Linked DNA regions of Homo sapiens. The protein of the gene in region 2 interacts with the protein of the main gene of each other region in a pairwise test. Each region holds a gene or a part of one and is shown on either strand. Other genes may lie near its edges. The genes, in order: HADHA, ABCF2 and UPF2.

Region 1 (3,733 bases), on a different chromosome or scaffold from region 2:
ATCCTATCATGCATCAATATTTGATGACAAATCTTCAAATAGAAGGTTAAGAATGATTTTGCTTCAAATAGCACAATAGCAGCAACATCATTTCTCCATAAAGAGTGTTAAACTTCTGGATCCATGAGACCATCCCGGCTAACACGGTGAAACCCCGTCTCTACTAAAAATACAAAAAATTAGCTGGGCATAGTGGCGGGCGCCTGTAGTCCCAGCTACTTGGGAGGCTGAGGCAGGAGAACAGTGTGAAACCGGGAGGTGGAGCTTGCAGTGAGCCGAGATCGCGCCACTGCACTCCAGCCTGGGCGACAGAGTGAGACTCTGTCTCAAAAAAAAAAAAAAAAATTCTGGATCCAGAAAACATAAATGTGTTGCATAATTTATTTTTACTTCTGTAATAAATCATTAAATTACAAAGCTTGGTACAAGGGAAAATCATCTTTGGTAAATTACTTCACTATCAGATTAAACATTTCACTATCAGGTAGTTAACAGCAATAAAAATGACGCAAAAGAAAAGCTTCCAGGTTGTTTAGAGAAATCTAAAACATTTTAACAGATCCCACTAATGAATAAAAATGACCAGGTAGGCCAGGCATGGTGGCTCATGCCTGTAATCCCAGCACTTTGAGAGGCCAAGGCAGGTGGATCACCTGAGGTCAGGAGTTCGAGACCAGGCTGGTCAACATGGTGAAACCGCGTCTCTACTAAAAATACAAAAATTAGCTGGGCGTGGTGCTGCATTCCTGTAGTCCTGGCTACTCGGGAGGCTGAGGCGAGAGAATCACTGGAACCTGGGAGGTGGAGGTTGCAGTGGGCCGAGATCGCACCACTGTACTCCAGCCTGGACAGCAGAGGGAGACTCCGTCTCAAAAATAAATAAGTAAATAAAAATGATCAGGTGCAATGATGTTCCACTCAATGTCCTTTAATTTCAGTTTGTTTCATTTGCTATTTTGTGAACACACTTAGGATATGGATTTTGTACTTTTGACCAAGGATAACTAGTATATTCTGTAATTTTATACACTGAGAGTTGCTCAGCTGGCCTCATAGAAGCTACATGTATTTTCCTCTGGATATAGGTAGCTACTGCCAGGTACATCAGTGTCTTGTTAGACTTTATAAATGTTCTGTTTAATGTTAATTTTTTAGAAGACCCAAAATTATCTTATCAAGTGGTTTTTCTTCTAGCTGAATTATTTGTGCCTAACAAGAGACTGATTACTACACATAAATAATTACACTTTCAGTACAAATTACTAAACCTACAATGCTGGCTATCATTGTCTAAAATACAAAGAACATAACAAATACCCATATTTTAATGGAATTGACAACTTAACATTTTAACCTATTAAACTGACACTAAAATATCATTTCCCCTCCTTATGTATGTGTAAACAATTGTAAATAAGTTAATGTAGGCATGCATTCCACCATTTAGCAGAGGAAAAGAAAATACTAGCTGCATCTGTAAAGCTGCCTTTAACAATCAAGTCCTACCACCCACTTCATTTCCCCAAAGCAGCCATCTTCATGTTTGTAGTGTCTCCTTCCAGACCAACTACGATTGTGTCCATAAATAGTATCAAGAATTATTCCATGTTTGGTTTTAAAACATTTATAGAAACTATATACTGTATGAAACATTCTGCAATTTGCTTTTCTTTTAACTTAACCTTATGTTTTTGAGTTCTAACATCATATTGTGGATCTAGTTAATTCCTTTTACCTGTTTTGTAGTATTCTATTGTGTGAATAGTCCACATTTTACTTACCCATTTTCCTACTGACTGACATTTGGTTTTAAATTCTTCATTATTTCACACTACACAGGACCAAACATCCTTGTACACTGGTTCTTATAAACAAGGGGTGAGATTTCTCTAGATCACATGATGTGTGTGTGTGTGTGTGTGTATATATATATATATATACTCTGTGTGTGTGTGTGTGTGTGTGTGTGTGTGTGTGTGTGTGTATATACTTTTTTTTTTTAAGACAGTCTCACTCTGTCACCCAGGCTGGAGTGCAGTGGTGTGATCTCGGCTCACTGCAACCTCTGCCTCCCAGGTTCAAGGGATTTTCGTGCCACAGCCTCCTGAGTAGCTGAGATTACAAGCGTGTGCCACCATGCCTAATTTTTGTATTTTTAGTGGAGACAGGGTTTCACCATGTTGGCCAGGCTGGTCTTGAGCTCTTGGCCTCATGTGATCCACCTGCCTCGGCCTCCCAAAGTGCTGGGATTACAGGCAAGAACCACCACACCCAGCCTGATACGTACATTTTCAATTTTACAGGCCTGTGTCACTGTGCCCAGCACTTCTACTTTCTTTTAAAAGGAGAAATTATTAGGCCTAAGAAACACACTATTAACCAAGATAAAAGGTGACTTCAAGTTTCCTAAAACTTACTTGATATCAGCACCTGCAATAAAGCAGCCTGGCTTTGATGAGATAAGGACGGCACTTCTGATTTGATCACTAGCCCAGATTTCATTCATAACTTCTGAGAACTCTGAATGTAGCTCTTTACTCAGTGTATTTACCTGCCAAAGGGAAATATATACAGGTAAGGGTTTAAATTTGAAGCACTGGATGTACGTACCACCATCAAATGCTATTTTGATTATAAGAAATATACTTATCCGGCAGAAATATACTGTTAGAAGAGAGTAAGAAATATCATTCTCCCAGCAAGTCAGTAGCTTTCTATTCAGGCAGCTTTGGCCCACTACAAGCACCCCTTCCTTTAAAAATAGGTCTTCTCAAAGGAGAAACTCAGGGTCATCCTCAGAGTTTGAATCATATGTAGGCTATAAACAAATAGGTCTACAAACATTTATTGGCATGGAAAAAATCTGCATAATGTTAAGAAAAAAATGAAATACAAATAAGACATATAGGCCAGGCATGGTGGCTCATCCCTGTAATCCCTGCACTTTGGGAGGCCAAGGTGGGCGGATCACTTGAGTTCAGGAGTTCGAGACCAGCCTGGGCAACATAATGGAACCTTGCCTCTACAGAAAATACAAAAATTAGCCGGGCCTGACAGCACACGCCTATAGTCCCAGCTACTCAGGAGGCTTAGGTGGGAGGATCACCTGAGCCTGGGGAGGCTGAAGCTGCACTAACCTGTGACTGTGCCACTGCACTCCAGCCTAGGCAACAGAATGAGACCCTATCTTCAAAAAAAACCATATAGTATGATCTTAGTTTTGTAAATATTATTCATTGAAACTGAATTAAATGTGATTATCCCATGGAAGATACCAAGAAAAAGATGTGGTTATCTTTAGGTTTGAATTATGAATGTTTATTATTTTCTTCTTTATAATTTTTTATAGTTGAAAAATTTTCTACCATTGACATATATTACTTTTGTGTTCAGGAAAAATGTCCAACCTAAGAAAATTCTGAAAAAATATCTTAAGCTTGAATCATTGGTTAGTGAGTGCTAAAATTTACTCTAGTAAAGGGGAATGGCTCTTATTTACCTTAATTTGTGATAGTTGTCAACTGCTTCCATCTAGGTCTTATTACATCTAAGCCTCTGGCTATAAGTTTGTTGTTGTTGTTTTTTAGAGAGACAAGGTCTTGCTCTGTGGCCCAGGCTGGAGTGCAGTGGTGCAATCATAGCTCACTGTAACCTTGAATTCCTAGGCTTAAGTGATCTTTCCACCTCAGCCTTCAGAGTAGCTAGCACTACAGGTGAACATCACCATACCCAA
Region 2 (3,344 bases):
GTAGGATGTATCCTTGTAGGATGTATCCTTTAATTGGGAAGAATGAGAGAAAGAAACGGTGTGAAAGGTAGAGTGGAATCAGTGTGAGCGGAGTATAATGAGGCTTGGACTGAAGGCAGATGAGCAAAACGCCTGAGCCTGGACTAGATGCAGATAGCAGAAGCTCCCCAGGTGGTGAAGAGGCTGACAGGGAGGAAGACCACTGGAGGAGGTGAGAAGCAGAAAAGCAATAGGTGCTCACCAGAAAAGCAGACGTGGCGGTCTTGGGAGTTAGCAGTAAAGGGAAGAAAAGCCCATTGCAAAATGGAGAAAGTCAATTGTCTCACTTAGCACCTATGGGGGAACAAATACTTCAGGCCCTTGAATGCTGTGATTAAAGAAACCTGGAGCAATATGAAAGGTATAGGGGCTTGGGGGAAAAGAGGATGTTACAAATTGAGAGGTGGGAGAAGGGTTCCAAAGACCAGCATCACCTGCTGGCTGTGTTAAAGCTAGCAACCCCTCAATCAACTTACCTCTCCACCCAGCTCTGAACGGCTGGCCACATCCTACGGGCTAAGGTTTAAGAGAATTAACAGGCCACTTCTCAATCCAAAACAAGGCACTGCTAATTTTAGAAATATGTATTTTGTGGACTTTTAAAGCATTATTTAAATTACCAAGGTTGACATTTTTCTTGACAAATAAGCTGACTAGACTATTTCCATTCCTCCAGGTTCTGAAGATCTCCTGTCCTAGTATGGAGACTCTGGAGATCCCGAGACTACCTGAATTCTTAGCAATATCCAGCACTTCCTTAAGTATCAAGGGCTCTGTCCCTCACTGTCCCCATTATCCCAGCAGCCCACTCTCCAGATGCCATTCTCCCCTGAACCAAGGCTCTGGACTCTCAGGACAGACTAACCTGGGCCATTTTGCTCCAGGCCCCACTTAAGGCATAAAGCAGTCAAGCCAGTACCCTCTGGGGTCAGAGGACTCCCATCTGTCTCAGCTGCAGTGTCTCACGGGAGGCTCCTGTCCCTGTTGCCCAGGGCAGCTCCTGGACTTTGTGGCCATCTGAGAAGATCCTACTCATTTTTCAAGTGAGAGCACACCAATTCCACCTTTCTGGGCAGCTACTCACAAGAAATTTCCCTCCTTTTTGAATACTTCTGTCTCCTATCTAAATCACAATTTAGCATCTAATTTGTGTCCTGTATGGTTCTGTCTTACTGGCTTTCCAAGAAGATCATGAGCTCCTAAGGGGTTTAAGCACCATCTGGGACAGTTGCTCCCGCCAGTCCTGGCTGTATTATGAGTACTGAAAAATCATGGCTGTGTCTTCCCATAGGGATGGCTGATTTCAGAGGCAGAGTGATGAATCCACACCAGGAAGGATGGCCACTGGTGAAATGCTATTGAAGTTCAAAAGACCCAGATAAGGTATGCAGAGCCCTGGGCTGGAAGTGAATTCAACAGTGATGATAACTATGGCTGTGGACAGGTAAAAATACAAAATTTCCTGTATCCCAATAGGAAGAGAGGTTCACAGACGTTGGTGTGAAAATGCAAACTCCTGGCCATCTCTGCACCTCTCTCATTCTACCAAATGCGATTAATCAATAGGTCTGATGCTCAGCAATCTGAATTTTTTTATTTTTTTGAGACAGTGTCTCGGTCTGTCATCAGGCTGGAGTGTAGCGGCACGCTCTGCTCACTGCAGCCTCAACCTCCTGGGCTCAAGTGAGCCTCCTCTTATCAGAGCAGCTGGGACCGCAGGCACATGCTACTATGCCCGGTTCATTTTATTACTATTTGTAGAGAAGGGGTCTCCCTACTTTGCCCAGGCTGGTCTTGAACTTCTAGGCTCAATTGATCCTCCTACAGTGGCCTCCCAAGGTGATGAGCTTACAGTCGGATTACAGGTGTGAGCCACTGTGCCTGGCCAGTCTGCATTTTTTTGAGACAGGGTTTTGCTCTGTCATCCAGGCTGGAATGCAGTGGTGCAATCTCAGCTCACTGCAACCTCCACCTCCTGGGCTCAAGCGATCCATCCACCCTAGCCACCTGAGCAGGTGGGATTCCAGGCACATAAAGACGGGTTTTGCCATGTTTCCCAAGCTGGTCTTGAACTCCTGAGCTCAAGTGATCCACCTGCCTCAGCCTCCCAAAGCGCTGGGATTACAGGTGTGAGCCACCGCACCTGGCCTGCATTTTTAACAAGCAGCCCAACTGCTGTGCAGTTGGGGCAGAACCTCAGATCACAATCAGAAAACCACGCTCCTGGACAGTGGTTCTCAAAATAGTCTCTAGACCAGCAACAACAGCATCACCTGGAAACTTGCTAGAAATGTTAACGTTCTTGGTCTCCCCCAAAACCTATTGAACCAGAAACGCTGAGGCGAGATCTGGCAATCTGATTGCATGAGCCCTCCAGGTGATTCTGATTCATGTTAAAGTCTGTGAATCACAGGCCTGAGAAAAGGTACAATTTCAAATCAGAAGTAAAGGGACAAAGTTCTTCCAGCTCCTATGGACTAGTCTTCAGTTCCCATCGACACACTGACGCTGGATCCAGCTCCTGCTGTGGGCAGTGCATGTTGGCACTGCAGGGAGGAGAAGGCCCCAGAGACCCGAGAAGGAAGGTAGGGACCGTGGCTTCCTCTTTCTTTATTGGGCGCTTTGTAGATGTCACGCAGGTCTAAAAGTTACACTGCTAAATAATTATTTAAAAACTGACCAGGACGAAGGTCCTGGTCCGGAGCTCCAAACCAGAAGCAAAAAGGAATCGGGGCGGTGGGCTGGGGGGTACTCCTCCAACATCACCAAAACCCAGAAAACGAGGATCCTAAGCTCCTCCGCAGGCCAAATCCAGGGCTTGGGCCCCTGGGCTAACCCGCAGGTGCCTCTGACTGCATCACACTCAGAGTAAGATAACCAGCAAGGGGCTGGAGGGAACGGCCAGCCGAGTCCAGACATGGACAGATGTAACTGGAAGGAGGACAGGAAACAGACAGGTACTGTCCAGCTGTAGGTAAGAGAGTGCAGCTAAGGCAGGTTGAGGGGCAGGGGAGAGGCTGGGGGAGCAGTATTGCAGCAATGCAGGAGTGTAGCCCCAGGGTCCTGTCCTGAGCGGCTGGTCAGGTTAGCAGCTGTTAGTTCCCAGATGGAGCTCCTGACCCGAACCCAGGTAGAGGGCTCACACGTTGTGGGTCCTCTTGGTGAGCTGGGGCTCCTCATCCACCAGCTTGGACTTGAGGTGCTCCTTGTAAGCCAGGATGTCTCCAGGCCACTTGGTGATTGTCTGCTTCTCACAGACCCAAATTTCCTGTGCAACCTAGAAAGCAAAACCTGGACTTAATCCT
Region 3 (3,500 bases), on a different chromosome or scaffold from region 2:
TTCGAGACAGGGTCTCTCTCTGTCGCCCAGGCTAGAGTGCAGTGGTGCGATCATGGCTTACTGCAGTCTCGACTTTCCAGGCTCAACTGATCCTCCCACCTCAGCCCCCAAGTAGCTGAGACTACAAGCGCATGCCACCACACCCAGCTAATTTTTATATTTTTTGTAGCAATGGGGTTTCAGCATGTTGCCCAGGCTAGTCTCAAACTCCTGGGCTCAAGCGATCCTTCTGCCTCAGCCTCCCAAAGTGCTGACATTACAGGCGTGAGCCACCGCACCCTGCCAGTACTATTAATAATACACATGTAATCAATATCCAAAGCTTTCATAAAGCTAAAATAATATACAAAAAGCATCTAAATAAAGTTTAACAGAGATATGCAAGTACACATTTAGGCTTTAAAAATTGTATTTCACTAGTTTAAGGTGAAGAAGAAGTGGCTTGTCAGCAGTTCATATGAGAAATAAAGCTTCAGTGCAAATAAGTTTAACAAAAACCAAAAGAACAACAAGGTAGCTATAAAAACTAAGGCAATTTTAGGTCACAGATAGAAAAGAATGCATCCAAAACAAGTATCCTAAGAGTAGTGAAGTGTCTGGAAATCATGGAGCAAACTGAAAGAACTGGAGGTATTTAACATGGAGACGAGAAAAGGGAAACATCACGGCAGTCTGAATATCTGAGATACTGTCATGGGAATAAAAGTGGACACATATGTCCTCTACTGGTATTCCTCAAACCATCTGTGGTAAAGGGCCACCTTTCCTTCCCCAACCACTGGACACTTCTGTAAAAATATAGTAAGAATACCATGACCACTGAAAATTCCTATAAACTTTTTTTTTTTTTTTTTTTTTAGGACGAAGTCTCGCTCTTGTCCTCCAGGCTGGAGTGCAATGGCACAATCTCGGCTCACTGCAACCTCCACCTCCCAGGGTCAAGTGATTCTCCTGCCTCAGTCCCCCACAAGTAGCTGGGATTACCGGGGCCTGCCACCATGCCCGGCTAATTTTTGCATTTTTAGTAGAGACGGGGTTTCACCATGTTGGCCAGGCTGGTCTCAAACTCCTGACCTCAGATGATCCACCCACCTTGGCCTCCCAAAGTGCTGGGATTACAGGTGTGAGCCACCATTTCCAGCCTGAAAATTCCTATAATAATTTCTAAATGCTCACTCTCACTTTCTGTGTTTCATTAAATTGTGAACAGGTTACAAGTTCATAGATTTCCTACTTCAAGTACCTGTATTCCATCCATACCAGAAAAAAGAACCAAATCAAAGGGAATCATTTTGTGGGAAGTTAAATTTCCACCTGATGTAACAAAGAATTCCTAGCCCATAGTGTTTCCAACAGTGCAATGGCACCGAGAGAACTGAGCTCCTTTGGGAAGTATTCAGAGGAAAAATAATTTTATCTGTTAGATAATCTAAAAAATGTATTCCTACTTTGGAAAGGTGAATGGATTGGATTAAAACATCGTAGAATCTCTCCACTCTCCAAGATTCTGAGTCCAATCAAAAGCAAATACACACACATACACCCTCAAAGTAGCCAAGAACTAATCAATCATTAGCATACTATTAGCATACTCACAAATCAGTTATGATGTATTAGGTAGGATGTACGAGCAAAGGACTATGAAATTGACAAAGCATATGGAAATCATAATTAAGCCCTAAGTAAGTGAGAAGTATGAATAAAGCACCACCATAATCCTTTTTAGTCCATTACTGATGGTACAAGTACACTCTCAGGTTGCCTCTTCAAAGTTTAAACCAGTCCTCGCAAATCAAAACACAAAACAAGGATAAGCCTTTTCCTTTTTCCTAAAAGAACTATTGATAACACCTTTGCCGTCTTAAATTCTCACCTCTGAGTGACCTTCAGCCACAAAGATTTAACCACAGTCTCTACCTTGACCCTGCCCTAACTGTACTACTGGCATACACTACTCCTGTTCAATCTTCTGGTCAATCATCTTCTAGTGGTAACTACTTAAACCACTCCTCCCCTACCACAGACTTATGAAACTAGAAAAGGATCTCCTCCTATACAAATTTCTGATCAACAGTAATTTCAGATTCTCAACCATGCAATATAAATAGTTGTAGAAATATTAAAATAGTTTAATACTCAGCCACGTGCTATGGCTATTACCTCTTTGCTACACTCCCTCAGCCCCCCTCCAAATCCATCCTCCATAGAAATTGACCTAATGCCTAGCAACTCCATCAACTTCTAGCTTCTTGTTGCTCCTCAGGTACAAATACTACACAGTAGTCTACCATACCTTTTAACAACCAAAATTGGCCCCAAAGTCAGGTCTTTTCACCAATTACCACAGGCACAGTACATTCCTCCTTTAGAATTTTAAATGAATGCCCCCAGGAAGAAGACTCCTACAAATGAGTTTTGTAGTTGCATTTAAGAAATTTTTTCACAGCTAATTTTGTGCATTATTTCCCAAAACTCTAATCTGAAATACCACTGGTAATTAATGACTCATTTTCTTAAGAAGAGCAACAGTGACATAAAGAACTTAAAATACAAAACAATGAAAGCAAACCTGTTATAGAGAGAACGTTAAAGCACACAGAAAAATATTAGCAGGTAAGTTTAAGTGACAGAAAAGGAAATTTTACCCCTTGATTATTAAGGAGTATTTAAAATCACAGGAAGAATACACATCCACAAAGCAAAAATCACCATCTACTTGGCAGATTTTTTTAAAATCAGAAACAAAATCTATCGTAGACTCACATTAAAACATGAGTACTCAGACTGTTCTACTTTGAAATTTTCCTGGAATGTTAAGAAATCACCTGTAAGGAGCCCTTTTCCATAAGTTCTTTCAGTGGCATGAAGACTTTAAACATTTTTAAGTATGAGCTCCAAAATAAATTCTCAACTCTGAGAAACATTTGAAAATCACCTGTTTTGTCTCTCAGTATTCTGGAGCTCCCTGTGGTCCCTTTTCAGGTGTTTGGTCAAAGACGTAAAGTACTCTTTTAAAAGATTCTGGAAGGGCTGTTGTTTCTCTGGACTAATTATCTCACTAGGAGGAAAACTCAAATTAAACTTCTCTGCAGCACTCTTTACTTTCCTTGGTACAAGTCCAGCAATATCATCTCCACAATGTCGACAGAAACTAATCACTACAGAGACATGAGTGTGGGACTCCCGATCAGCATTAATAATATTTTTTAGCTGTTCATAGATTAAGGAAAGACCTTCCTTGTCAGTGAAAATCCCAACTATTGTCAATTCTGCAATAAAACGCAAATCAGTTCTTAACTTGGTGATGTTAGGTGTTTTCTCCTCTTTCCTTGCTTCAAAATGTTTTTTCCAGACCTGAAGAAGTGATGGGGCAAAGTCAGCATAACGCTGGTGAAAGAGAGAGCAGAGGTGCACAGCACAGTTCACATCAGAGATTTTTAGTTTTGCTTCCACGATGGAAGCTACAGCTTCTGCAATGTATTTGCTTAAATTTAGGCCAT

The links.
Region 1: the proteins of ABCF2 (region 2) and HADHA interact in a two-hybrid assay, tested with the Homo sapiens proteins (one large-scale study listed by BioGRID).
Region 3: the proteins of ABCF2 (region 2) and UPF2 interact in a two-hybrid assay, tested with the Homo sapiens proteins (one large-scale study listed by BioGRID).

The regions. Positions count from the first base shown.
Region 1 is NC_000002.12:26,234,438-26,238,170, forward strand, and holds part of HADHA (trifunctional enzyme subunit alpha, mitochondrial precursor), read right to left. Parts: intron 2,552-3,733; coding exon 2,418-2,551; intron 1-2,417. UniProt on the Homo sapiens protein: Mitochondrial trifunctional enzyme catalyzes the last three of the four reactions of the mitochondrial beta-oxidation pathway.
Region 2 is NC_000007.14:151,210,876-151,214,219, forward strand, and holds the end of ABCF2 (ATP-binding cassette sub-family F member 2), read right to left. Parts: intron 3,317-3,344; coding exon 3,179-3,316; 3' UTR 609-3,178; downstream 1-608. Other genes in the region: ABCF2-H2BK1 (ABCF2-H2B protein), read right to left, coding at 3,183-3,316.
Region 3 is NC_000010.11:12,025,810-12,029,309, forward strand, and holds part of UPF2 (regulator of nonsense transcripts 2), read right to left. Parts: coding exon 2,936-3,500; intron 1-2,935. UniProt on the Homo sapiens protein: Involved in nonsense-mediated decay (NMD) of mRNAs containing premature stop codons by associating with the nuclear exon junction complex (EJC).